Homo sapiens: one gene and its partners. The protein of the gene in region 3 interacts with the protein of the main gene of each other region in a pairwise test. Each region holds a gene or a part of one and is shown on either strand. Other genes may lie near its edges.

Region 1 (10,512 bases), about 10 Mb from region 3:
GTTAACCATGTGCACCAGGTTCCAAAGTAGGGGCTATGTATTAGCAGGTTTTCTTAAAAGTTTAATAATGTCACTGACAGATACTTCTGTCTCTAAGAAGTTTACACTAAGTTCTCTTTAATTGGAGACAACTCACTTAGGAAGAATGATTACACCCACACTGAATTCAACACCCACCAGAGCTGTCTCACCTTACATTTGACCAAAAAAAAAAAAAAAAGACTGCATCACTAGAGAAACAGTCTGAATTTTATCAAACATCCTTCTTAGCTATACAGAGGGCTGGCTTTATGAGCCAAGGGAACAGATCTAGAAAGATCTGTCATCTGACAAATGAAAGGGCTGCGGAAAGGGCACCAAGCAGATCCTTCCGAGACTTCAATGCTGGGTGTCGGGTCTGTGAAGCACTCACTCCCGTCTGCTTCTAGGGAGCAAGGAGGTGTATGCCATAAACTGATAAAGACACAGTGCTGGGTTCTAATCCTACGTCTGCCACTTACTTGGAGAACTTGGAAAAAAATAAATCCCTTCACTTTCCATACTGTTTCAGCTTTTCTTGCCAAGCCACATCTTAAGTTGCTGTCCAGTCTATAGATTGGTCCCTGTAGGTCAGAAGCCTAACTAACTACGTAGTCAGGTGGCAGGATCATGTGAAGCAAAAATCATCTTTCCACTGCTGCTGCTCCAGTGATGGCTGGGGTGGAGCGATTTTATTTAGTTATGGCTGTGATAAATACCATACCTAGTAAATGTCTAGTTAAAAGAGCTGCCAAGTAAGTGTTTTTTCAGTGAATTAATGAACCTTCCATTTTTTAAGACTCAGCTTAAATGTCATCTCCTTAGTGATGTCTTCCTTAATTTTCCTTCCATCCTAGTGGGATAAATTAGTCTTTTCTTTGTGCCACCACTGGACCTAGTAACTATTATAATATTAACATTGTATCATTATTGTTTACTTATTTGTCTTTCTCTCATACAACATAATTCCCAAAGGCAGGAATTGTAACATTCATCCTTATTCCCCCAGGGCCCAACAATAACTGGTCATAAGAAAATTAGTAATAGGCTGTCCGTAAATGGATATGAAAGAGAATTACTGAATAAATGAGTGAGATAGTTCCTTTGGGCTCCAACATTCTATGGCTCTTTGAAATAATAAGCTGCTATATTAAGAACCATAAAATGAAACTAGTTGGCTTTACACAGTATCCCCATTAATAGAAAGATAAGGACAACAGTGGTTTAATGTATTGAGTCCTTACTAAATGCCATGCAGTGAGTTAATACTTTCTATGAATTGCCTCATTTAATACCTACAATGACTCCAGGTACTGCTAATGTTATCCTGATCTGACAGATGAGAACAGTGAAACTAAGAAATTAGACAAATACCCAACCAGTGAGTGGCAGTGAGCTGCAGTTCAAAGTCAAGGCTATTTGACACCAAAGCCCATAGTTCTTTAAAAAGAAAGAAAAATTAAAAATAAGGTGATGCTGATAGCTTGTAGTTCTCTCAGTCTATTCTAAGGCTTCACAAAGGCCACCTCGGTATTTAATAGAACAAAGACTATCTGAGCCAGTAGGAACCTTTAAAGGGCATCTAGCCAGCCCCAACATTTTATACTTGAATTTTTTCTTTTTTGAAACGGAGTCTCTCACTGTCACCCAGGCTGGAGTGCAGTGGCACCATTTCGGCTCACCGCAACCTCTACCTCTTGGGTTCAAGTGATCCTCCTGCTGCCTTAGCCTCCCAAGTAGCTGGGATTACAGGCTCGTGCCACCATGCCCAGCTAATTTTTGTAGTTTTAATAGAGATGGGGTTTCACCATGTTGGCTAGGCTGGGGTTGAACTCCTGACCTCAAGTGATCTGCCCACCTCGGCCTCCCAAAGTGTTGGGATTACAGGCGTGAGCCATGGCGCCTGGCCTATAGTTGAAATTTGAAGCCCAGAGAGAACAATCTGGCTCCAGTCTCAGGGTTGGTTAGTAGAACAGCCTGTCTAGAACCCAACTCCCAGGGCATACTCCTACTGTTCCTGTTACTCAGATGTTCCCTCAGTTCATTCACTATATTATTAAACTTCTGTCTCATCTTTTTTTCTTTTAGCACCCTCAAGGACAGGGACCTTGTCTTGGTCATCCCTGCATCCCAAGAGCCTAGCACAGGACCTGGCATGAGTAGGTGTCCAAAAATGTTTAGGGGAGGCTGGTTTGGAGAATGGTGAGTGACAGTCACAGGCATAGGCACTTAGTGATTTATTCTCCTCTTAAGGCTCCATCAGCAGGTGGAATGGAAGACACCTCCCACCCTGACCCCTTGGGCAACCAAGGCATTATACTCCTTCACTGCCTGCTCTGTCTGGAGGACCCGCACATCAATGCCATGTTTCTTGAGGTACTCCACAGTTGATGAAGGCACCTGGGAAGGTGGAAAAGAGATGAGTAAGTAGGGGGAAAGGCCCCCCAGGGGTTCCTTTACTGCCATGAGGCAGGTGTACTCTACAGAATTAGACAGTGACAATCGTCACTTCACGATCACTCAGTGTATCACCAGTCCAAAATTTGGCAGTGAGCCCCAATGAGTCAAAAAGGCCTCTTTGTCAGAGGTATCATAATACCCATGCATAAAGCTCAAGTGAAATGGAAATGAAAGAACATGGGATTTGCAGTTAGCCTTGGATTTACATCCTTACTAGCACTGTAACCTTGGGTAAGTAAATTAAATTCTCTGAGTCTTTGTTTTCATGTCTGTAAATTAGGGACATTAACACCTAGGGTTGGTATGACAACTAACTGAGCTAAGGGTATGTGAAACATCTACCTTGGTGTGCAAACTCCATAAATGTTAAATGTTTGAGTTAGTCTAAACTGAGTCTAAATTTCTTCTTTGCCGCATGCTAGCTAAGAAATGTTAGGCTAGCTCTTTAAAGTCTCCCAGCCCCAATTTCTTCCCTTGTAAAATAGGTATAATAGTACTTACATCACAGGGTTGGTGTGAGGATGAAATTGACTCATGTATGTACACTGCAGCTCAAATGTCTTCTCACAAAGGCCTTTCTTGCCCACCCCCTACTAGCCCAGCATAAGTCACCATTTTCCTCACTGCGTTTATTATTATCTGAAGTTGTCTAGTTTTTTATTATCCATGAGGGGCATGAACCTTGTTTGTCTTGTTTATCGCACCGTCACCAGTTTCTAGAATAGTGCCTTACCCATAGAAAATGCTTAATAAATATCTGTAAATGAATTTATATAAAAGATGTTCTTAATAGTGACAGCTATTATTAGATATTTTCTCAACTCTGGCTTGTCCTGAATATTTTTTAAAAATAGATTTTAATTAGACTCTGCCTCAGAAAGAACTCAAGTGAAATATTTTTTAATATGCCCTATATTTTCTATATATTTGAGATTTATAAAAGTACCCTATCAGATAGGAATTATTGTAATGGGGAAAACAAACTAGTTTAAAATTTTAAAATATAAATAGGCTGGGCATGGTGGCTCAAGCCTTTAATCCCAGCACTTCAGGAGGCCAAAATGGGAGGATTGCTTGAGCCCTACTGATGAAGGTGCCCTATATATATAAAGCCCTAGATGTAAGGGGCACCTTCATCAGTAAGGAACAGGACTGTAAGACATCTATAAAGGAAAGAATGAGGTAGGCCTCTATATGGATGACTATCCATAATACAGTAATGTAAGTGGGGGAAAAAGTTATAGAATACATATAGCACTGACCTATTTATGTAAAATGGTTATAAGTATATAAACGTATATCTATATGTGTAAGTGTGTATATATTTGCAGATGCATTCAGAGAAGACTGGAGAAATATACATCAAATGTGAAGATTGGGAAGGGAATCTCCCACCTTTTTACTTCTACATTTCTGCATTGAATTTTTAAATCTTTTACAATGAGCATATATTATTTCTGTAAGAAAATTAAAAAATAAGCCAGGCATGGTGGCTCACACCCGTAATCCCAACACTTTGGGAGGCTGAGGCAGGTGGATCACGAGGTCAGGAGATCAAGACCATCCTGGCTAACACGGTGAAACCCCGTCTCTACTAAAAATACAAAAAAATTAGCCAGGCGTGGTGGTGGGCGCCTGTAGTCCCAGCTACTCGGGAGGCTGAGACAGGAGAATGGCATGAACCCGGGAGGCAGAGGTTACAGTGAGCCAAGATGGCGCCACTGCACTCAGCCTGGGCGACAGAACAAGACTCCGTCTCAAAAAAAAAAAAAAAAAAAAAAAAAATTAAAAAATAGGCCAGACGTGGTAGCTCACATTTGTAATCCTAGCATTTTGGGAGGCCGAGGCGGGAGATCATTTGAGCTCAGGAGCTCAAGACCAGCCTGGGCAACAATAGTGAGACCCCATCTATATTTAAAAAAAAAAAAAATTAAATTAAATTTTTTTCTGAAGAGGGGAAAACTATAAATGTGTCCAATAAAAGAAAAATTAGAAGTACTATAAAATATACTATGAGGATATAAAGTATTATTAAAATATAAAGGACCAAATAGTGATCCTTGTAGAACTTGAGGGATTCTGAGAAATAGTTGAAATGACACTGTCTCAGGGTTAGGTAGACTGGAGAGCCCAACGCTGATGAGGCAGAGGAATGTGTGCAGCCACTGCTATCCTGGGTCAGCAAAATGAGGGTACATGATATATAAAGATGACCTCCCAAGAAGGACAAGTCTGTAAGACAAAGGCCCAAGAGATCCCCACCTGTCCTCAGGAATGCTGTGCATACCAACACCTACCTTCAAGGCCTCACTCATCCCTCGGCCAATCACAAGAGTCTGTACACCCTTCTCAACAACTTCCTTCACATCTGCAGGCTGCACACCAGGAGAATGCTGGATGTGGAAAGAGAAAGTAGACAGGTACCTGCTCTCAATCTTTCATTGCAATAGGCATTCTTGTGGGATTCATTCATTCAAGAAATGTCTACTGAGGTTCACTTTGTGCCAAGCATCACTCATAGGCTCTTTAAGGCACTTAGGAAGGCTGACGAGGCAGGATCCCTTGAACCTAGGAGTTCAAGACCAGCCTGGGCAACATAGGGAGACCGACCGTGTCTCTACAAAAAATAAAAACTTAGCTGGGTGTGGTGGCTTATGCTTGTAGTCCCAGCTACTCAGGAGAGCTGAGTTGGGAGGATTGCTTGGGCCTGGGAGGTCGAGGCTGCAGTGAGCCATGACTGCACCACTGCACTCCATCCTGGGCAACACAGTGAGACCCTATCTAAAAAAAAAAAAAAAAAAAGAAAAAGAGATAAATAAACGAAATCCGGGAAACAAGGCATTCCAAGTACAGGAAAAAGCATTTTAAAAGGCTCAGGACCTTTTGGCTGGAACAACCATCTTCCAGTAATTTGCCAAAATGACAAATACAAAGGGAAAGAGGAGATGCACCCAATATATGTCCTCTAGGCCTTTTAGAAAATATGGAGTTGTTCCTTTGGCCACATGGTACATGTGAATCTATGAGACAGGTGATACTGTAGACATCAAGGGAATGGGTACTGTTCAAAAAGGAATGTCCCACAAATGTTACCATGGCAAAACTGGAAGAGTCTACGGTATTACCCAACGTGCTGTTGGCATTGTTGTAAACAAATAAGTTACAGGCCAGATTCTTGCCAAGAGAATTGTGCCTATTGAGCACATTAAGCACACTAAGAGCCAATAGAGCTTCCTGAAATGTGTGAAGGAAAATGTTTAGTAAAAGAAGGAAGCCAGAGAGAAAGGTACCCGGGTTCAAATTAAGCGCCAGCCTGCTACACCCAGAGAAGCACACTGTGTAAGAACCAGTGGGAAGGAGCCTGAGTTGCTGGAGCCTATTCCCTGTGAATTCACGCCATAATTTGTGTTAAAAAACAACAACAACAACAACAACAACAAAAACCTCTGGACTGTACATTAAAAAAAAAAAGGTGGCCAGGTATGGTGGCTCACACCTGTAATCCCAGCACTTTGGGAGGCTGAGGTCAGGAGTTTGATACCAGCCTGGTCAACATGGCGAAACCCCATCTCAACTAAAAATACAAAAATTAGCTGGGTGTGGTGGCGCGTGCCTGTAGTCCCAGCTATTCGGGAGGCTGAGGCAGGAGAATCACTTGAACCTGGGAGGCAGAGGTTGCAGTGAGCTGAGATCACGCCATTGCACTCCAGCCTGGGCAACAAGACCAAGACTTCATCTCAAAAAAAAAAAAAAAAAAGGCGGCTGGGCGTGGTGGCTCACACCTGTAATCCCAGCACTTTGGGAGGCTGAGGCGGGTGGATCACGAGGTCAGGAGATCAAGAACATCCTGGCTAACACGGTGAAACCCCGTCTCCACTAAACATACAAAAAATTAGCCGGGCCAGGTAGCGGGTGCCTGTAATCCCAGCTACTCGGGAGGCTGAGGCAGGAGAATGGCGTGAACCTGGGAGGCAGAGCTTGCAGTGAGCCAAGATTGTGCCACTGCACTCCAGCCTGGGCGATAGAACGAGACTCTGTCTCAAAAAAAAAAAAAAAGGCTCAGAGGAAAGAAAAAGACTAGAAGAACAGTTAAAGTCAGTACAACTTGTTTGTAGAGTGACAGATGAGGTGGGAAAAGAAAGCACTTGCATAGCATGCTAAAATTTTGACTTTAGAAAAATTTCATAACAATCTCTATATTGTTACTTTTTTTCTGAACTTCCTAATCTTCCCAGCTAACTCCAGGAAACTTCTTTTTATGCTTTAAAACCTACCAATCACTCTGAAAAGTCTTCCCAGTCTTCTAGGCACATTTAAGGTGATGTGTTTAACAAAGATGAATTGAGCATTAAAGGATGGTAGCTTCTTGAACTACCTCTGTGTCAGCAAAGGGGATATGGGAGTTAGAGTTTGGGAACTACCAGCCCAACCTACTGGGCTCCACCTGTTATGTTTCTGCACAAGGACAATGCTTTTAGCACTGAAGCTCCCAAAGACAAAGCATTCCTTTCCTGACCCATATACCTCTATCCTTTCATTCATTCATCCAGCATTTACTGAGAACTTAACTCTGTGCCAAGTCTCAGTATTTCTAAGCAGTAGCAATACTGAGATGAACCAAATGTTCCATGGAGTTTCATTCAGGTAAGGTTAGTGAAAATGTGCAAATATTTGTAGTAGGATGAGAAGAAATGGAGTTGAGGATCTCAGAAGACAGAGTGAATAAACCCAAGTGGGAAACTGTCATGGAAGACATGCTGTTTTAACTGGGTCTCGAAGTATGAAAATGAATAGGCCTTGAATGCAGTGGTTGTAGAAGGGGTACCTTCTAATGGTAGAGATGGTATAGGAAAAGAGCTGTTGAAATTATCAAAGAGATAACAAATGGGCGAGAGAAAGAAGCGTTTTCCAGTTCAGGAAGATGAGACGTTATGGAGATAGGAATGAAATTTATATATTTATGAAAGGCATGGGGGCCGGGCACAGTGGCTCATGCCTGTAATCCCAGCACTTTGGGAGGCCAAGGAGGGAGGATTACCTGAGGTCAGGAGTTCAAGACCAGCCTGGCTAAGGTGGTGAAACTTTGTCTCTACTAAAAATACAAAAATTAGCCGGGTGTGGTGACATGCGCCTGTAATTCCAGCTACTCAGGAGGCTGAGGCAGGAGAATCACTTGAACCCAGGAAGTGGAGGTTGCAGTGAGCTGAGATTGTGCCACTACACTCCAGCCTGGGCAACAAGAGCGAAACTCTGTCTCAAAAAAAAGGAAAAAGAAAAAAAAGAAACGTATGGGGAGGATGAATATGAGTTTTCATTAAATCCTGTAATAATAATGTCTTACATATTTACATGTGCAGTTTTATTTTTTTTAATATTTTTTTTTTCGAGATGGAGTCTCACTCTCTCACCCAGAGCTCACATTCTAGTAAAATGAAACAAGAGGCCACTGACTGCTGGAAATCCAAGTGTAAGGTCATAGGAGACTACAAACCCATAATCCTCTGGAGATTAGACTGGAGACAGCCACAGCCCATTGGAGTGGCTGGATCAATGGAACTCAAGTGATGAACTGGGCTGCTGCTGCTTTACTGCAGGCTCACAGTGTCATGTACAAAGCAATGAAAGATAACTCTGCAAGGGCCTGTGGATCCATGGGATTGGAGCTTGAGACTATTATTGAGGCATCCTCAACCTGCCACTAGCAATTCCTGTGCTGCTTCCAATCCCTCAGGGCAAATCACTAAGGCTCTTCTTCCTATTGAGTGTCTGATTCTGTTCCTCTACTTTAAGAGGCTTTCTGTCACACGATCTAAGGTGGTAAAAGCTTATTGTTTTTTCTGCGGGGGAAGCTATTAATTGTGGAAAAATGTCCAGCTAATATCCATTATGCCAGCTAAACAACAAGATGGCATCCTGTCTGTCTTGAACATTTCTCCCTATTTCATGCTAACTTTAAAAAGAAAACATTCCTAAACTACTCTTCCAAAGAAGTATTTCCTTCTGCCAAAATTAAGTGAGCATAAATGGGTAGTAGCAATGCTATCATCTGGCTGTATTGCTGATAAAAGCAGATTCTGTGAGTGAAGTTTAAAGGATCTCTGGAATCTATCCCCTGTGGACACTGCCTGAGTCACATTCTCATTATTGCTTGTCTGAATTAACAGGCTGTTAAATAATCTTGCTGCCTCTGCCAGGGCAGAGGCCTGTTTTTGTGCTACAGGCCCCTCTGGCAGTCTATTGAGGCCGATGGTCCCCTTCTCAGAATAATGTTTTAGAATACACAAAAGAAGATATGTAAGATTATAGAGGAAACATTTCATACAAGTGGAATTATCAAAATATTAACAACAAACTTTTGGTCTAGTATTATATGTGCTTCTTTATTAGTTTAGGAAAATGGAAATCTTTTCCAAAAGTCTGCTAGCCAACTTACCCTCCCATCTCATAATGGCAGATGACTAGTTGTTCTTTCAAAATCCATTCTGCCCATTTTCTGGGGCATATAGCTGATAAGCTAGACACTCCGTTTTCTGTACTTCTTGCAGTTAAATGTGGTCATGTGACTGTGCTATCACTAATATAAAATTCAATGGAACATGAGCAGAAGAAATGATTTCATATATAGGTTTGGCATGAGCTTTTCTTCTCTTTCCTCTTCCTTGCAAGTTAGAGCCCTGCCATGCCTACAACCGGTTCCTACAATTCAAATGTTCTAGGAGATGATAGAGCAACAGAAAGAAAAAACCTAGGCCCCTAAATGAAATTGTGCTATCCACATCTCTCCCACCCTACCACCAGTTTGGACTGGCCACAATAATTTATGAGAGAAAGACACTTCTATCTTCTTTATGCTACTGAATTTTGAGATTTCTATTACAACACCTTGGCCTTCACACTAAGTAATCATGCTAAGTAATCCATTACTAAACTAAACCATGACTAGTTAGGCAAATCATGTGCAGTAGAATGAATGTTGGGGACTCAACCACATTAGACACTGTGTCTAATTTGCAAAATATATACAAGGGAGACATATTATAGGGGCCTTTACCTTATGGGAATTCAACTATATGGGTCCAGAGAAGGAGAGAGTAAGAACTATGGAAATAGAGTAATTCAGTCATTCTTTTTTGTTTTTGAGACAGGGTCTCACTCTGTCACTGAGGCTGGAGGGCAGTGGTGCAATCAGGGCTCACTGCAGCCTCAATCTCCCAGGCCCAAGTGATCCTCCCACCTCAGCCTCCCAAGTAGCTGGGAATACAGATGTGCCACCATGCCTGGCTAATTTTTTAACTTTCTGTAGCAACGAGGTCTCTCTATATTTCCCAGGCTTGTCTTGAACTCCTAGGCTCAAACAATCCTCCCATCTTGGTCTCCCAACGTGTTGAGATTACAGGTGTGAGCCACTGTGCCTGGCAATTCAGTCATTCTATTCAAGGAACATATGCCCTGGATTGTACATGAGATAGGAGACAAGTATCTACTATTCCTTCTATGTCAATTTCATAGTTGCTGCTTCCAGTATGAACCTTTGACTCACTGAGTTTATTTCTAGTGTTTAGAACCACAGTATGCATTTTTTCACATAATATACACCCTAAATGCAAGGCAACTAATTAATCTGGTTCTCAATCAAGAATAACCACTATGTTCTTTTTTTTATTTTTTATTTTTTGAGATGGCATCTCACTCTGTTGCCCAGGCTGGAGTGCAGTGGCTTGATCTTGGCTCACTGCAACCTCCGACTCCCGGGTTCAAGCGATTCTCCCTGCCTCAGCCTATAGCTGGGATTACAGGCATGTGCCACCATGCCTGGCTAATTTTTGTATTTTTAGTAGAGATGGGCCCAAGAATAATCATTATGTTCTAATATTAAAGGGATCATCTTGGCCAGGAGCGGTGGCTCATGCCTGTAATCCCAACACTTTGGGAGGCTGAGGCGGGCGTATCACCTGAGGTCAGGAGTTCGAGACCAGCCTGGCAAACATGGTGAAACTCCATCTCTACTAAAAATACCAAAATTAGCTGGGTGTG
Region 2 (10,790 bases), on a different chromosome or scaffold from region 3:
AAATTACCTGGGCATGGTGGCAGGGGCCTGTAATCTCAGCTACTCGGGAGGCTGAGGCAGTAGAATTGCTTGAACCGGGGAGGCGGAGGTTGCAGCGAGCTGAGATCGTGCCATTGCACTCCAGGCTGGGCAACAACAGTGACTTGTCTCAAAAACAATAGCAACAACAACAACAAAAAACAAAACTGAAGGTGGGACTGGGAAGACGTTTGGGAAAGCAGCCTCGGGTGAAGGAGGTGGAATGAGTTCTACGTCTTGACTTTGGGGTGCCGTGGCAGGCAGCGTGGAGGTTGCCTGTCGTTCAGGTTGGAGGAGCCTGCCTGGGCTGAGGTGGCCAGCTGGGGCCCAGAGCCAGAACACTTGGGAGGGGTGGAGAGGAAGCAGCAGCCCTTGGAGAGGAAGTGATTCAAAACCACGTATGCCTGGATGTGTCCGGACTACGGCAACATCTGCCCAACTGCCTTCTCCTGGCCCCTGTGGGCACTCCCCTTCCAGTAGCTGGAGAGACCTTCCCGGACAGATCATGAGCATGCCCCACACCTCTCCCTCGGGATCAGGTTCAAGCTCAACTTCCTGGCTAGCCTCTCCCTCCAGGGAGCCAGAGGCCTGCCCTGCACTCACCCACTGCTCAGGTTCAACCCAGGCCTTTTCTCTGAGGCTTAAGCCCTGGGTGACCTTGAGTTCAGGGTCAGCTTCTGCAGTGCTGGGGATGGTGACTTTCAACAGTGCTAAGCTGGCCTGGATGCAACCTCTGTGCTTTGCTGTGGCTCAAAATTTACCTACTGTGTTTAAATTTCTTGTGACGGTGTCTTTATCCTGCAACCCCCTAAAGCAGAGAGAGGGACTGACTGTCCCTGCCTTATAGGGTTCTGGGTTGGGAAGGGGTATTACTTGAGTTAGTAATGGCTCACACTCACTGTTCAAAGTGCTTTAAATTCCATACACGGTAAGGACTATCCCATTTGACAGAGGAGGAAACTGAGGCGAAGATGAACTCACCTTAAGTCACGCAGCAGCTTGTAGCAGCAGAACTAGGCTTGGGGTCTTGGCAGCTGTGCTCTTACCTGCCATGTGCAGAACCTGCTGCTCTGGGGTCACGCAGAAGGCACCAGGACATGTTGTGCATGCGTCGTTTAGCTGTTATCACTTTACATCCCACCACAGTGCGGGGCAAGCCGATGCCCTTGGAGTAAGCCCCAGGAAGCTGGCCTGGGATGCAATGTGATGACAAAGAAGGTGGAAGGGGAGTGTCAATTCTGACTGCAGAAGGGAGGCAGCAGACAGTGCAGGAGGGGCTCGAGGGGCCTGGGGAGGGTCTCAAGCAGCCACTGTGGGAACTGGGGCAGGGACGGCCCAAACCTCCGCGCATCAGCACCCAGCCTGGCAGACTCGGGGTACTCACCTGAGGGCAGCCCTGTGCAGGCGGTGACACAGCAGCAACCCTCCATCTCCGGTTAAAACAAGTTTGAGTAAGACTCGGTTGTCTCGCTTTGACGCAATACGTTAAGGAAACTTGTAAAGAATGGCAGATCCTGACCCAGTGGGCAGAAAAGCAGCGGGGGAGGAGTCTGTGCATCAGGAACAGCAACATGCAACTCCGCAGAGGGAGGGGCCCCCGATGTGACAGAAATCCAGAGTAAAGAAAGAGTGGCTCTCAGACCTGGAAGGGCTGGGGTTCCATTCCAGAATCTGGGAACATAGGAGGAAAAAGAAATCGGAATGAGAAACAGGAAACAATAAAATCACTTTAATGTGCTACTCTTCACTTTGGAAGGTCATTACAGTATCATTCGACAAGGAAAGATGCCGCTGGATGGCTGTGTCCTGTGAGTCACTGGGATGAGCTGGCTGCTTTCACCCCACCGGATCCGGGGCTCAGACAGTTACAAGCCCGAGTGGCTGGGAGGTTTGGAGGGAACCAGGTTTAGCTGTGATGAAAGCACCTGGCTGTGGGCTGGGAGGCAGGAGTGCAGGGCAGCCTGGGCTCCCCTGGCCCCAGACTCAGGTCGGCAAGTGCCCAGTGGAGGCCACACAACCCCAGCACCAAGCAATGGAGGGTGTATGGCTCAGTGTTTCCACATCCTGAAAAGTGACACATGAACCGTTTCCTAGGAAAGTTCTCTTCCACCGTGTTCTAGCTGAGACCCGGGATCCTTCCAGTTTCACGAAGAACGTGCAGAAGATGAAAAGAGTGAGGGACGCGGACCTAGCTGTAGCTGCACTCAGCCGCCTCCGTGGTAAAGTCTGGGTGAAGGCCTGGGTGAGTGCAGATAGGAGAGCAGCTCCTCTTACTGTTCTCTGGCTGGGCTCTCGCTCCATCCCTGAGAAACTAGAGGCGAACGCCTCCAGGAAGCCAGCCAGGGGCAACCAGAAAGTCCTTTTGGTGAAGTCTGACATCCCGCGTTGGTTTCTCTGGACCTGGGTAAGAACCGGCCCCAGGGCAAGGACTGTTTTGCCAGCACCAACTCTCCAGCCCAGCTGTTGGTTCCCACTACCTCCGGTCTCGGAGACAGAGAAGCAGCCAGGCTATTCTGAGTGTAGTGAACACAGAGCCGGTCCGAATCCGGCCCAGCCGAGGTGCAAACTCCCTAGGGTCTGCTCCCACTTGGCCAGCCATCTGTCCAGCAGGCCTCAGCCCCAAACACGGGAAAACGCAGAGTGCGTCTAGTCACTGGGTATCACACTGCCCCACTCACAGCCCCCATCAAGGTGACATGCAGGCGGGAGCTTCGTTCCAGGAGGTGTTTGTAAACTTCGTCCTGGGCTGGGTCACTGCAGATGGCCTGTCCTGGTTTCTCATTACCAAACCCCCATGTTTGGTATTGATGCAGGGGCCCATTAAAAAAACCGCTTATGTTTCCACAGACCCACCAAGAGGGAGGGTCCAGGCACAGTTTTTCTTTCTGTATCATCCTAGAATGATGGGGAAATTTCCGCCAAAACTACATGATTGCACGTATCAGGGTGGGTATTAGACTAGGGGGCTGGGGGTGGGTGGGGAAGACCTTTTGTGCGAGGCATTCCTCTGGGCCATTCTTGACAAGAGTTTTCTCCTTCCTTCTGGAAGTTTCTGGCACTGGAGGTGGAAGTCCAGACTGCACATGCCTGGCATAGCATGCAGAGCCTGCCTAGGCTGCGGGTGGGTGAGCACGTGTGGGAGGACCCTCGGCTCTGGCCACCGAATGCCCTATGCTGGCTTGTCAGCCGGGACCCCGCCCCTCCCGCTCCCACGTTAGGAGAACAGCAGTTCACAGATCCTGCGCGTGTCCTCAGGCGCTGTCACGGAGTAGCCCATGGTTCTGGGGTCTGTGAAGATCTCATGGTCATTGCCACCCTGGAAAGACACGAAGTACAGATGAAGGCTCCCCCTCGTCTGTCCCGGGCCATTGCTGATGTGACCCTGGAGTCCAAAAGTACCCAAAAAACAAGATTTAACTGGGCAGGGAGAGTTTCTTCAGCTACCTTCCTCTTAGTTTCCAGGAGAGGAACGTGAGTACAATTGTTATTAAGAAGAGATTTATAACCTTCTCTTGAACTGCAATTTGGCTTGGAACACGTAATTATGCCTATGAGAGCCATCACGATGTTCTTGCGAAGATCTGTCTAAGGCTTATTTTTCTACACAGAAGGCATCAGCGAGTGACAGTATTCTCACAGCCATCAGTTTTTTTTTTTTTTTTAGCTGTACCTACGCTTTTCTAACAAGTCACAAGGGAGCGTCAGGAGGGCAGAGGGCCGGGAGCAGGGCTGCCAGGGATATTCCTGTGATGAGGGACGTGGCGACATCAGCGGTGATGGCAGCCACTGGCCATGTGTCACTCTGCACACTTGAAACGTGGCCAATGCAATGGAGGAACTCAGTTAATTTGATTTTAATTTAAACAGCCCCACGTGGGCCGGGCATGGTGGCTCATGCCTGTAATCCCAGCACTTTGGGAGGCTGAGAAGGGTGGATCACTTGAGGTCAGGAATTTGAGACCAACCTGGCTAACACAGCAAAACTCCATTTCTACTTAAAATACAAAAATTAGCTGGGCATGGTGGCGCACGTCTGAAATCCCAGCTGCTCGGGAGGCTGAGGCAGGAGAATTGCTTGAACTCGGGAGGTGGAAGTTGCAGTAAGCCGAGATCGCACCACTGCACTCCAGCCTGGGCGACAAAGGGAGACTCTATCTTAAATAAATAAATAAATGGCCCCACATGACTGGGGTCTGAGCTGCTGGCTAAAAGCAGGGTCTCTGGAACAGGTGGCCTGGGTCAGATGCTGGTTCTACCACTGAGCAGCAGTGTGGCTGCGCCAACTCCCCATCTCCAAAATGGGGTCATGATGGAAGCTTGCTCACAGCTCTGTGGCCAGAAGTTCAGGAGATGATGGTTGGGGTCACACCTTGGTAAGATGACGAAACCGAGGCCTCAGAAAGTCTGCAAGGGCCCATGTCTAGGAGGACCTGGGCATGTTCTGCTGGGGTCCTGTGCCTGAGTTGAGTGCTCCCATCTGTGTCCCCATCACCCCCACCAATCCCACTGGGCTCACGTTAATGAATCAGGTTATCTGCCGCTCCCGCAACCCCGAGCCCTGCAGGAAAGCCCCCGTTTTTCTCATGGAATTCCTTTATTTCCCTCATAAAATTGGATAATCACTCTAACTCAAAACCTTAAAATAATCTACGATTGCTTTACAATACAATGAACACAACCGTAGAAAAAAGGGATTTTTCTCATAAAGCACCGAGCATGAAGCCAACGTGGAAACCATGATTTTGTACCAAAAATCTGACATCCTTTAAAAGAATTAATTGCCTCTGGAAATGAGTGTTTTCATTTTTGCAAGAACCTATCCCCAGGCAGATGGCCTCCTCAGGTGGAGGTGAATTTCAGGCTTCAGGAGGGAACGTCGCTGGGCCCAGGGAGTGCTGGGTGGAGTCAGGTTAGGAGGCCATGAACTTGGCATCTCTTCCAGTCCAGCCACTTGGGAACCTGTCAGGGCCTTGTACTGGCCTTACACAGTTTTGTACCAGGCCTGGGGGCCTTCAGACAGACCTGAATTGCATGGCCACCATCTGCTACCTACACATGTGAAATCAGTTCTGGTAATTCTGATTTTGCCTTTTTTTTCCTTCGGACATAGGGTCTTGCTATGTTGCCCAGGCTGGGCTCGAGCGAACCTCCTGCCTCAGCCTCTCGAGTAGCTGAGACAAAGACTGTGTCCAACAGTGCCAAGCTAGTTCCAGTAATTCTTCTAATTAAAAAAAAAAAAAAAAAGATTTCTTTCAGGAATGGCACAGTGGGTAAAAGTCACAGAGAACCTAACAAAGGCACAACCTAGCTGGGTGTGGTGGTGCGCACCTGTAATCCCAGCTGCTTGGCAGGAGAATCACTTGAACCTGGGAGGCGGAGATTGCAGTGAGCCAAGAACAGACCACTGTACTTCAGCCTGGGCAACAGAGCGAGACTCAAAAGAAAAAAAAACAAACAAAAAACCAAAGGCACAACCAACTCTCACATGCCTCAAAAGAGCCAAACACCCTCCCCGCCTCAGTGACTGAGGAGGGGAGTCAGTATTCACACATTAACACAACACACCTTTCTAGAACACCTACTGTCAGGCCTCTGAGCCCAAGCCAAGCCATCGCATCCCCTATGACTTACACGTGTACATCCAGATGGCCTGAAGTAACTAAAGATCCACAAAAGAAGTAAAAATAGCCTTAACTGATGACATTCCACCATTGTGATTTGTTTCTGCCCCACCCGAACTGATCAATGTACTTTGTAATCTCCCCCACCCTTAAGAAGGTTCTTTGAAATTCTCCCCACTCTTGAGGATGTACTTTGTGAGATCCACCCCTGCCCGCAAAACATTGCTCTTAACTTCACCGCCTATCCCAAAACCCATAAGAACTAATGATAATCCACCACCCTTTGCCGACTCTCTTTTCGGACTCAGCCCGCCTGCACCCAGGTGAAATAAACAGCCATGTTGCTCACACAAAGCCTGTTTGGTGGTCTCTTCACATGGACGCGCATGAAATTTGGTGCCGTGACTCAGATCGGGAGACCTCCCTTGGGAGATCAATCCCCTATCCTCCTGCTCTTTGCTCCATGAGAAAGATCCACCTACGACCTCAGGTCCTCAGACCCACCAGCCCAAGAAACATCTCACCAATTTCAAATCCAATAAGCAGCCTCTTTTTACTCTCTTCTCCAACCTCCCTATCCCTCACCGTCTTTCTCCTTTCAATCTAGGCGCCACACTTCAATCTCTCCCTTCTCTTAATTTCAATTCCTTTCATTTTCTGGTAGAGACAAAGGAGACGTTTTATCTGTGGACCCAAAAAACCGGCGCCGGTCACGGACTGGGAAGGCAGCCTTCCCTTGGTGTTTAATCATTGCAAGGACGCCTCTGATCATTCACCCACGTTTCAGAGGTGTCAGACCACGCAGGGACACCTGCCTTGGTCCATAACCCTTAGCGGCAAGTCCCGCTTTTCTGAGGAAGGGGCAAGGACCCCAACCCCTTCTTTCCGTGTCTCTACCCCTTCTCTGATTTTCTGGGGCAGGGGCAAGAACCCCCCAACCCCTTCTCCTTCACCCTTAGCGGCAAGTCCCGCTTTTCTGGGGGAGAGGCAAGTACCCCAAACTCGTATCTCTGTGCCCCAATCCCTTATTTCCATGCCCCAACCCCTTTCCCGCTTTTCTGGAGGGTAAGAACCCCCAAACCCCTTCCCTCCATGTCTCTACGCTCTCTTTTCTCTGGGCTTGCCTCCTTCACTATGGGCAACCTTCCTACATTCCTCCTTCTTCTCCCTTAGCCTGTGTTCTCAAGAACTTAAAACCTCTTCAACTCATACCTGACCTAAAACCTAAATAAATGCCTTATTTTCTTCTGCAATGCCGCTTGACCCCAATACAAACTCGACAGTAGTTCCAAATAGCCAGAAAACGGCACTTTCAATTTTTCCATCCTGCAAGATCTAAATAATTCTTGTCGTAAAATGGGCAAACAGTCTGAGGTGCCTGATGTCCAGGCATTCTTTTACACATCAGTCCCTTCCTAGTCTCTGTGCCCAGTGCAACTCGTCCCAAATCTTCCTTCTTTCCCTCCCGCCTGTCCCCTCAGTCCCAACCCCAAGCGTTGCTGAGTCTTTCTAATCTTCCTTTTCTACAGACCCATCTGACCTCTCCCCTCCTCGCCAGGCCGAGCTAGGTTCCAATTCTTCCTCAGCCCCTAGACCCTAAAAGGTCAAAAGGCCGTCTTATTCTCAATATACATTTTATTACCCAATCTGCTCCCGACATTAAATAAAACTCCAAAAATTAGAATCTGGCCCTCAAACTCCACAACAGGACTTAATTAACCTCACCTTCAAGGTGTACAATAATAGAAAAAAGTTGCAATTCCTTGCCTCCACTGTGAGACAAACCCCAGCCACATCTCCAGCACACAAGAACTTCCAAATGCCTGAACCGCAGCGGCCAGGCGTTCCTCCAGAACCTCCTCCCCCAGGAGCTTGCTACACGTGCCAGAAATCTGACTACCAGGGCCAAGGAATGCCTGCAGCCCAGGATTCCTCCTAAGCCGTGTCCCATCTGTGCGGGACCCCACTGGAAATCGGACTGTTCAACTCACCTGGCAGCCACTCCCAGAGCCCCTAGAACTCTGGCCCAAGGCTCTCTGACTGACTCCTTGGCTTAGCGGCTGAAGATTGACGCTGCCCAATCGCCTTGGAAGCCCCCAGACCATCACGGACGCCAAGCTTTGGGTAACTCTCACAGTGGAGGGTAAGTCCACCCACTGTTTAATCGAAACGGGGACTACCCACTCCATGTTGCCTTCTTTTCAAGGGCCTGTTTCCCTTGCCTCCATAACTGTTGTGGGTATGGACGGCCAGGCTTCTAAACCTCTTAAAACTCCCCAACTCTGGTGCCAACTTAGACATTACTCTTTGAAGCACTCATTTTTAGTTATCCCCACCTGCCCAGTTCCCTTATTAGGCCGAGATATTTTAAGCAAATTATCTGCTTCCCTGACTATTCCTGGACTACAGCCGCATCTCATTGCCGCCCTTCTCCCCAACCCAAAGCCTCCTTTGCGTCTTCCTCTCATATCCCCCCACCTTAACCCACAAATATGGGACATTTCTACTCCTTCCCTGACAACTGATCACATGCCCATTACCATCCCATTAAAACCTAATCACCCTTACCCCGCTCAACGCCAATATCCCATCCCACAGCACGCTTTAAAAGGATTAAAGCCTGTTATCACTGGCCTGCTACAGCATAGGCTTCTAAAACCTATAAACTCTTCTTATAATCCCCCCATTTTACCTGTCCAGAAACCGGACAAGTCTTACAGATTAGTTCAGGATCTGCGCCTTATCAACCAAATTGTTTTGCCTATCCACCCTGTGGTGCCCAACCCATACACTCTTTCATCCTCAATACCTTCCTCCACAACTCACTATTCCACACTTGATCTTAAAGATGCTTCTTTCAGCGTTCCCCTGCACCCCTTGTCCCAGCCTCTCTTTGCTTTCACCTGGACTGACCCTGACACCCATCAGTCCCAGCAGCTTACCTGGGCTGTGCTGCCACAAGGTTTCAGGGACAGCCCTCATTACTTCAGCCAAGCTCTTTCTCATGATCTACTTTCTTTCCACCCCTCCGCTTCTCACCTTATTTAATATATTGATGACCTTCTTCTTTGTAGCCCCTCCTTTGAATCTTCTCAACAAGACACACTTCTGCTCCTTCAGCATTTACTCTCCAAAGGATATCAGGTATCCCCCTCCAAAGCTCAAATTTCATCCTCATCTGTTACCTATCTCGGCATAATTCTCATAAAAACACACGTGCTCTGCCTGTTGATCTTGTCTGATTAATCTCCCAAACCTCAATCCCTTCCAAAACAACAACTCCCTTCCTTCCTAGGCATGGTTAGTGCGGTCAGAATTCTTACACAACAGCCAGGACCACACCCTGTAGCCTTTCTGTCCAAACAACTTGACCTTACTGTTTTAGCCTAGCCCTCATGTCTGCGTGCAGCGGCTGCCGCTGCTTTAATACTTTTAGAGGCCGTAAAAATCACAAACTATGCTCAACTCACTCTCTACATTTCTCATAACTTCCAAAATCCATTTTCTTCCTCATACCTGATGCATATACTTTCTGCTCCCCGGCTCCTTCAGCTGTACTCACTCTTTGTTAAGTCCCACAATTACCATTGTTCCTGGCCCGGACCTCAATCTGGCCTCCCACATTATTCCTGATACCACACCTGACCCCCATGACTGTGTTTCTCTGATCCACCTGACATTCACCCCATTTCCCCATATTTCCTTCTTTCCTGTTCCTCACCCTGATCACGCTTGATTTATTGATGGCGGTTCCACCAGGCCTAATCGCCACATAGCAGCAAAGGCAGGCTATGCTATAGTACAAGCCACTAGCCCGCCTCTTAGAACCTCTCATTTCCTTTCCATCGTGGAAATCTATCCTCAAGGAAATAACTTCTCAGTGTTCCATCTGCTATTCTACTACTCCTCAGGGATTATTCAGGCCCCTTCCCTTCCCTACACATCAAGCTTGAAGATTTGCCCCCACCCAGGACTGGCAAATTAGCTTCACTCAACATGCCCCGAGTCAGATAACTAAAATACCTCTTAGTCTAAGTAGACACTTTCACTAGATAAGTAGAGGCCTTTCCTACAGGGTCTGAGAAGGCCACCGCAGTCATTTCTTCCCTTCTGTCAGACATAATTCCTCAGTTTAGCCTTCCCACCTCTATACAGTCTGATAACGGACCAGCCTTTACTAGTCAAATCACCCAAGCAGTTTCTCAGGCTCTTAGTATTCAGTGGAACCTTCATATCCCTTACAGTCCTCAATCTTCAGGAAAGGTAGAACGGACTAATGGTCTTTTAAAGGTACACATCACCAAGCTCAGCCTCCAACTTAAAAAGGATTGGACAGTACTTTTACTTCTTGCTCTTCTCAGAATTAGAGCCTGTTCTCGAGATGCTACAGGGTAGGTACAGTCCATTTGAACTTTTATATGGACGCACTTTCTTGCTTGGCCCCAACCTCATCCCAGACACCAGCCCTCTAGGCGACTGTCTTCCAGTCCTCCAGCAGGCTAGACAGGAAATTCGCCAGGCTGCTAAGCTTCTCTTGCCTACTCCAGATCCCCAGCCATATGAAGACACCCTAGCTGGACGATCAGTTCTTGTTAATCTGACTCCTCAAACTCTACAACCTCGATGGACCGGACCCTACTTAGTCATCTATAGTACCCCGACTGCTGTCCGCCTGCAGGATCCTCCCCACTAGGCTCACCGTTCCAGAATAAAGCTGTGTCCATCGGACAGCCAGCCTAATCCCTCCTCTTCCTCCTGGAAGTTGCAAGTACTCTCCCCTACTTCCCTTAAACTCAGTCGTATTTCGAAGAACAGTCATAACCCTTATGAGCCTAATACATCCCTTCATTCTATTAGGTTTTTCGTCCTTACCCTACTTTTTGCAACAGGGCTTTACGAAGTCACCCCCACCACTTAGGCCGAGCCCCAAAAAACTAGTCATCCCTACTATCTTCTGTCTGGTCATACTCCTATTCTCCATTCTCAACTACTTATAAATGCCCTACTCTTGTTTACACGGCCGGTTTACACTGTTTCTTCAAGCCATCACAGCTGATATCTCTTGGTGCTATCCCCAAACTGCCACTCTTAACTCCCTCTTAGAGTGGATAGATGATCTTTGCTGGCAAGGCACCCTCCAATATTTCCACC
Region 3 (7,382 bases):
TCTAGCCCAGCCTGGAGAGCGGTAAGCCCATCCCGCCTGGAACTGGGGGCACTGCCCTGGCTGATGGTGTCCACGGAATCCCCATCTGGACATGAGTGGAAACGGTGAGGCTGGCCCAGGTGAGAAGTGGGCGTCCGCTCTGCCTGTGGGTCTGTCTGTTCTCTCTGGCCTGACCGGGCACCCTCTCCAGGTTGTCTACAGCCTGTGCTGGGCATTCAGGGGACACATGGATCACTCTGCAGGGAGGCAGAACCTGGAGGTCCCCCTGAGAGGCTGCCAGTTCCTTGGTTGAGAGTGCTCGCTGGCCTTTTGACTCTTGCTGAATGGCACAGAGTGGGTCGTCTGGCTGGAGCCCCCCATACCTCCTCCAGAATCCTGTCTTGGGGATGCTGGGTTGGCAGTGGCCTTGATTCCTAAGAGGGGGCATGGAGGGGCTGGGGGGCGGCAGGGCTGCTTCTCCCTGAGCGCTATGTTCTGGGCGCAGCTGCAGCTCAGGGATGCCTGTGGCTCAATCCCTTGTGTCTCACATCTCAGCCTGCAGAGCTGGATGGGACCCCACACAAAGACGGTGGGCTGGCTCTGGGGGATGTAAAAGGAGGAGGGCCGGCCCCTGGCCCAACCCCATGCCCGGCTGTGTGAGAAAAGGCTGCCAGCACTTTGGAGTTGCTGCCAGGCAAGATGGGAGTGCTCTGTGTGAGTTGGAGGGTCCCAGCAGCCCCTTGAGGCTATACAACAAGGTGTAGTCATCTGCCCTGGCCATGGCATGGTGGGTGGGAAGTGGGGAGATGATGGAGGGAGTTGGGGGATCCATTCCAGTACTGGTGGCTCCCCTTCACCGAGACACCCAGGGGAGGGCCAGGCTGGGATTGTAGTGGCCCCTGATACGTGTGTGTGTGCGATTTTGATCTGTGTGATGGGAAACAACCCCCCTCCCACACACACACACGAGCACACTGACATGCTAACCCACATGCACGCAGACACACGGATGAACTCAGAGCCTGCTGACTCGCCACATGGCGCACACACGTACAGCTTCTGTGCACATGGACTTACCACACAGCACGCGCACAGACACAGGCAGGCCTCCCTGCACACCCCTCCCCGGCTGGCCCGCCCGCCCTGCCTGCCCGAGGCGCCTGCTGGCCCCCTGCCCCCTCATCCATCTTGCCTGCCAGCCTGTCCCTGGTGCCCCCGTATCCTTCACACCTTCTCATATCACTGCTCAATACCAGGAGGTGGCGTGGCAGCCGTGGCCGCAGGGAAATGGATGGGCAGGGTGGGGGTGTAGAGGGCTGGGGGAGTGGCACTGCGAGGGGACTCTGGACTCCAGCAGCCCCAGATGTCCAACAAGAGTCCATTAGGCTCAGGCAGGTGCGGGCAGTGAGGCTGCAGCCAGGTCGCATATAGCCCTGCCTATTTGTCCTGCCATGACACCCTGAAGGGTGCCAGCATCAGGACAGAGGGGCCCTCAGCAGTGGGCCTCATGCCGGCTCGCCTGACATCAGTGCGCGGTGTCCTGGGGATGGCGGAAATGGTGGCTTCCCAATTAGAGCTGGGAAGTCCCTGTGCCCCAACCCAAGCCACCTCCTCCCTGCATCTCTGCAGTTGGACAGGCTGTCCTGCATGGGGACAGCCTTGTCCTGCTGTGGCCCTTCCCCCAGCCCTGACTCCCTGCTTGAGCCACTATGGGCACCGGGCTCATTACACACTTAAAAATGCACATCTGGCCACATAGAGATCCCCTTAGAACGCCCAAGGAACTGAGGCTCTTGGAAACACGTGTGTGTGGGAAACGCACAGACACGCACGCCAAAGAGCATCCAGGGCAGGCGCCATGCACGGACAAACACACATGTGTGCACAGACATGGGCCTGTCTCTGCGCTCCCCACACTCACTGTCTGGCCCCAGGACTATAGGAGGGTTGGGGGGTCCCCCTCTGGGTTGTAGCCTCCTCTGGAAGCCCCTCCGCTGGATCCAGAGCAATCCTTCTTCAGGTTCTCCTCCCACACTCTGGAATCCTCCCCCAGGCATGGATGGACAGCTGTGGGCACAGAGGCAGCCACCACTGGCCCCAAGACACTTGCAGGTCCAAGGCTGCACTGGCCAGACCTCCCCCAGATCCTGTGGTCAACCTCCCTTCCTCCATCCACTTCCCCAGCCAGAGAGGAGCCGTGCAGGACAGAGGACACAAACCATGGACCTCTGGACATCTTCCATTTTATAGAAAGGGAAATTGAGGCCAGGGGTTGGGGAGGCCTGGCAAGGAACATGGTGCATGGTAGGTGGCAGAAGGGACCTCTGTGCTCAGAGCTGTGCCTCAGGACCCATCGTTCAGATGGGAAGACTGAGGTTGGGGAGGTGTGTCTTGGGTTAGGAAGCTGGGCTCGGGGCAGGGGTCAGCGCGGGCATGGCAGGCACGGTGAATGTGAACTTCTCAGTCTGGACAAAGGCAACGCCCTTCTCATAGTAGGCAGCCTCGTTAATGAACACGGGGTACACCGTGGACTCTCCCTCATAGAGCAGGTCCTCCCCACTGAACATCTGGAAGATGGGAGCACCAGGCTGCAGTGGCTGGAAGTCTCGGTCCTGGGAGGAGAGCCAAAGGCCAAGATTGCTGGGGCCACCTCTGCCCTGGCCCCAGAGGGGGGTGACCCCAGCTTGACACCCAAAAGATGCCCCTCATTCATGGCTTTTCCCACCCATGCTTCACTTCCTTAATCCATATGACAGCAGGTCTGGTGAGATACCAGTCTGCTCTGTGTCTAGAAATGAAGACACAGGTCACCTTGGGGTGGCATGTGCCCATGTGGAAGTGGACCCTCATGGATACGGGCACAGGTATTGAAGCTGGAGTTCAAATTCTTGCTAGCTGTGTAACTGTGAGCAAGTCACTTAACCTCTGTTTCTCAGCTTTCTTGTCTGTAAAATAAGGATTACAATATCTCCTCCTATCATTCTGAAGTTTAGACTAAACAGGTTAATAGTGCTTACAGCAGTGTCTGGCACACGGTAAGTACAATATGATTCTTTATTAAATAAATTTTGGCTGGGCGCAGTGGCTCACGCCTGTAATCCCAGCACTTTGGGAGGCCAAGGCGGGTGGATCATGAGGTCAGGAGTTCAAGACCAGCCTGGCCAACATGGTGAAATTTCATCTCTACTAAAAATACAAAAATTAGCCAGGTGTGGTGGTGAGCGCCTGTAATCCCAGCTATTCGGGAGGCTGAGGCAGGAGAATCGCTTGAACTCAGGAGGCGGAGGTTGCAGTAAGCCAATATTATGCCACTGCACTCCAGCCTGGGCAACAGAGCGAGACTCTGTCTCAAATAAATAAATAAATAAATTTTAAGCCTGGGCACAGTGGCTCATAATCTCAGTGGCCTGTAATCTCAGCACTTTGGGAGGCTGAGGTGGGCAGATCACTTGAGGTCAGGAGTTCGAGACCAGCCTGGCCAACGTGGTGAAACCCTGTCTGTACTAAAAAGACAAAAATTGGCTGGGTGTGGTGGTGAGTGCCTATAATCCCAGCTACTGGGGAGGCTGAGTCAGGAGAATCGCTTGAACCCAGGAGGCAGATGTCACAGTGAGTTGAGATCGCACCACTGCACTCTAGCCTGGGCAATGAAGCAAGATTCTGTCTCAAAAAATAATAATAAAAAATAAAATAAATTTTAAAATTGTAGGAGGAGCCACCCAAATTGACTGTTATGACTGAACGTCTGCAAGGTAGCTGGGCACGGCTGGATTAAGACTGTCTAGCCCTAAACATGGACGGGATGGTGCTGCCTCCATTTGTAAGAAGGTAACTCCTCAAAATGAAACTTCAGGGCACAAAAGGCCACAAGATTGCACCAGACCCTATTCAACAATGACCCCCTGTGGCAGCAAGCAGAGCAGCAGCCAGTACGTTCTTCTCAGGCACCCAAGGGAAAGGTGTGGAAGCAGGATTGCCTAATCCTGGAACATTCAGGAAGGGAAGGCCTGCAGAGAGACATACTGCCAACATGCATGGGGATGCTCGAGGAACCAATTGAAAATCAGAAGAGAGTTTTGTATTTGCACCTCCAAGCAGGTGAATTGAGTCATGCCTGCTCCATGTCCCCTCCCTCTGCCTTTTACAGCCAGGGTAGGGTTGTCTCCATCATGCCCTCCACAGGAGCTATGGGGATCACTGTGGCCTCTTGTGCTAGGCCTGAGTGTGGGGTTCCAGGGAAGGCAGCAGGGCCAGGGGAAGTGGGATGGCGGAGCCCAGCCTCCCATCCTGCTCCTCAACCCGAGATGCTGGTGAGCTCGTGGGAGGCTTGGCTGCACCCCCTGGGGCTCAGTTTTCCTTGACAATCCTCCTCCCCAAGGCTGTGGCCCCAGAAATCACCCCCCACCACACACACACACACACACACACACACCTGCAGCTGAGGATGCACAGTGCCTGCCAGGTGCCCGGCCTCGGTGCGGGGGAAGTCCACGACGCCCACGGGTCTATAGGCTTCCATCTCAAAGGCAGGAAAGGCCGTACCTGTGTGGGAGGCTGGGTGTGTGAGCCCATCCCTCCCTCCAGGCTAGGGGACAGACTGGGCCGTGGGGGTACGTCAGGGCTAGATCCCAGCCTGCCTGTGAGCCTGGCTCCCCAACCCCTGAGCCAGACCTGCTCTTCCCCGGACCTGTTTCCCGAAAGTCCCCTGGGGTCTCACCCTGGTTGAAGAGTTCGATGAAGTCCAGAACTGTGGCCACCAGGGTCCTCATCCTTGAGAAAATGTCAGCCCGCAGCACACCCTGTGGCTGGGGGCCCAGCTCCAGACCTGGGGACCAGGAAGCAAGGGGTTAGGCAGGTGCAGGACCCATATACTCCTTGAAGAGGCCCTGCCCCTTGGTGACTGGACCCGCCCCTCCAGCCCTCCTGGCCCCGCCCACTTCTCAGAAGGCTGCGGCCCACCCAGTCCATTTTTGGCCACAGAGTCCAGGTTGTAGCTCTCCTCCCCAGACCGCTGGTACAGGAAGACCTGGCAGGACAGCTCGGGGTACTGCAGCTGGGGGCGAGAGAGGCAGGTTAGGGGCCCAGGCCTACTTGGGAAGGGAAACTGAGGTGGGAAGGTGTTGCATGGAGGAAACACAGGGCACCACCCTCCTTGGCCAGGTCTCCCTCTACCCTCTGGCAGGGTAGGGGAGGGGGTACCGGGGGCCTGGAGTGCTGGCGAGTGGCAGACCCCAGGGACTGGAGCCCAGGGGAAACTAGGCCCGGGGAAGAGGGGCTAAGCAAAGGAGGTTCCAGCATTGTCCCGCCTGCCCTCCCTCCCTCCCACTCCCCTCTGGGGAGCTGTGTGCTTGGGGCCGGGGCCACCTGCAGATGGCGGCACAGGTGCATGGCAAAGACTTCGTGGGAGGACTTCGCGATTAAGCAGGTGCCCATGTTGGCCGTGGTGTTGTGCAGGTCAAGGACAAAGTCAAAGGCCTGGCCCGAGGCCTTGGGCCCCAGCAGCTGGTTCAGCTCTCGGGCTCTTGTCACCTCATATGGGTCGTCCGGGGTGGGCCTGGAACTGTGGAGACGGGAATGGGGGACACCGATCTTCACAGTCTCAGTCAGTCTTCAGTGGTTTAAGGGGAAAGGGGCAGGGGCCCTGCAGGAGCCACTCTGAGCAGCTCGAGCGAGGGCTTTCCCTTCAGACGTTGTGGCTGTGTCCACCCCTGCCCGTGGCCCTCTTGGCTCTGCACTTCCCGGTAAAATCCAAGCTCTCAGCCTGGCCCGCCCTCCCACCTGCCTGCCCACTTGCCTGCCTCTCATGCCCTCATTCCAGCCACACTGCCTGAGCACCATGCTGGTCTCACCCCCAGGCCTGTGCTGTGCTTGGCCCTCCAGTGGAAACTCCCTCTCACCTCTCTTCCCCTGGCTAGCTTTTAGTCAGCCTTTGGGGCTTGGCTGAGACACCATTGCCTCCAGGAAGCCTTCCCTGACTGCTCTCAGCCAGGTTAGCTGCTTTGTGTAGCCTCCGGCCCTGCCTTTAGCCCCCTGGGTTATGGTTGCCCGGTTCTTCCTCTGTCTCCCCATTAAGCTTGAAGCCAACACCTTGGTCCTATTCCCCATTCTCTCACCTGAGCTGGCCAGAGCCTGGCCTGGAGATAGGATGCAGTGACTATTCATTGGAAGGAGGCATGAACAGTGATCAGGGCACACGACAAGTAAACATGGCCTGTGGGGCTAATCTGAGGGAAGAATTAGGTCTGGGATCCCCAGAAGAGGTCCTGAACCAACTTGCAGTCAGGAAGGCCTTCCTGGAGGAGGTGACATCAATCTTGGTTTCTCTAAATGTTCGGTTTGTCCCGTGGAGGAATGGGCCACATAGGCAGAGGGGAAGCAGGAGTGAAGGCAGGGAGGGCCCTGCTGGTGGCGGGAGGGAAGTTTTGTGGTGGGGACTCGGTGCCCAACTGCCTGGGCCAACCTGGCGGCAAAAGCACTCACTTGAGGAAGCTGCTGGTGAAGGTGCGGTTGAGGTCATGGTCCACGTAGCGGCGGCAGCCGGATGTGGCTGCCGGGTTGGCCAGCACAGGCACAGCGGAGAAGCTGGCTCTCTGCAGCTCTGCGGGGGCATGCAGCCAGTGCCGGGCCAGGTAGACGCCCGACATCTCGTTGCCATGCGTGCCCCCAGTCACAGCCACGCGACGCAGGGGCTCCCGGGGCACAGGCAGTGAGCACATGCTGGTGTGGGGTGCAGAACCTGGGGGTGGGCATACTTAGGAGACCCTGGCCCCGATGCAAGGGATCTGGGCTCAGGGCAAGGATGGCGGTGGGAGGCTCCACAGGGCAGCCACCTGTCAAGAGGTGTGGACAGCTGGGAGTGTCTCAGCTGTGTCCCACCTGCACCCCCAGTGGCCCTTTCTCTGAGGAGACAATTTTCCTGCTCCTTTGGAGAAAAGAAGTTTCTTTTTCCTAAATTGAGAAGAGGGGCCCAACTGTTCAGGAAGATGGGTTCACCAAGGCACACTCCCTATAGGAAGAGGACTGCGCTCCTTTTTATAGACAGGGAAACTGAGGCACAGCGTGGGGAGTGGAAAGTGTCACCAGAGTTAGCTGTGGAGTGTCTGGGTTCTAGGCAACAGCCTCGCCTTCCTGCCCCTCCTGCTTGCTCCTCCCAGCTGGTGCAGGGGTCTCAGGTCAGGGGGTACTTACCGCTGATGCGGATCTGGGCTTCCCGGGCCACCAGGACTGGCGTCTAACTCGCAGACAGGCTGGTATTCATGGGCCTGGAGATCCACAGATGGGAAGTTTTGTGGCAAGCTGGCAGACAGCAGGGGGTGGGTGGGACGGGCTGAGGTTCATGCAGCCAAAGGTCGGAGTGCTGGGGTCTGCTCCACTGCTCCTGCCCCGCCCGCCCCACGCTGCTA

The links.
Region 1: the proteins of ACY3 (region 3) and AAMDC interact in binary tests that used the Homo sapiens proteins (3 or more experiments, as listed by UniProt).
Region 2: the proteins of ACY3 (region 3) and PMM2 interact in binary tests that used the Homo sapiens proteins (3 or more experiments, as listed by UniProt).

What each region holds. Positions count from the first base shown.
Region 1 is NC_000011.10:77,864,081-77,874,592, reverse strand, and holds the end of AAMDC (mth938 domain-containing protein), read right to left. Parts: intron 4,872-10,512; coding exon 4,776-4,871; intron 2,442-4,775; coding exon of another isoform or gene 2,419-2,441; coding exon 2,278-2,418; 3' UTR 2,241-2,277; downstream 1-2,240. UniProt on the Homo sapiens protein: May play a role in preadipocyte differentiation and adipogenesis.
Region 2 is NC_000016.10:8,840,268-8,851,057, reverse strand, and holds the end of PMM2 (phosphomannomutase 2), read right to left. Parts: intron 3,335-10,790; coding exon 3,233-3,334; 3' UTR 1,733-3,232; downstream 1-1,732. UniProt on the Homo sapiens protein: Involved in the synthesis of the GDP-mannose and dolichol-phosphate-mannose required for a number of critical mannosyl transfer reactions.
Region 3 is NC_000011.10:67,640,349-67,647,730, forward strand, and holds the end of ACY3 (N-acyl-aromatic-L-amino acid amidohydrolase (carboxylate-forming)), read right to left. Parts: intron 7,276-7,382; exon of another isoform or gene 7,242-7,275; 5' UTR 7,168-7,241; intron 6,716-7,167; 5' UTR 6,696-6,715; coding exon 6,460-6,695; intron 6,114-6,459; coding exon of another isoform or gene 6,093-6,113; intron 5,540-6,092; coding exon 5,344-5,539; intron 5,033-5,343; coding exon 4,939-5,032; intron 4,805-4,938; coding exon 4,697-4,804; intron 4,522-4,696; coding exon 4,412-4,521; intron 2,592-4,411; coding exon 2,376-2,591; 3' UTR 2,207-2,375; downstream 1-2,206. Other genes in the region: T-box transcription factor TBX10, read right to left, coding at 254-413, 1,057-1,406. UniProt on the Homo sapiens protein: Plays an important role in deacetylating mercapturic acids in kidney proximal tubules. Also acts on N-acetyl-aromatic amino acids.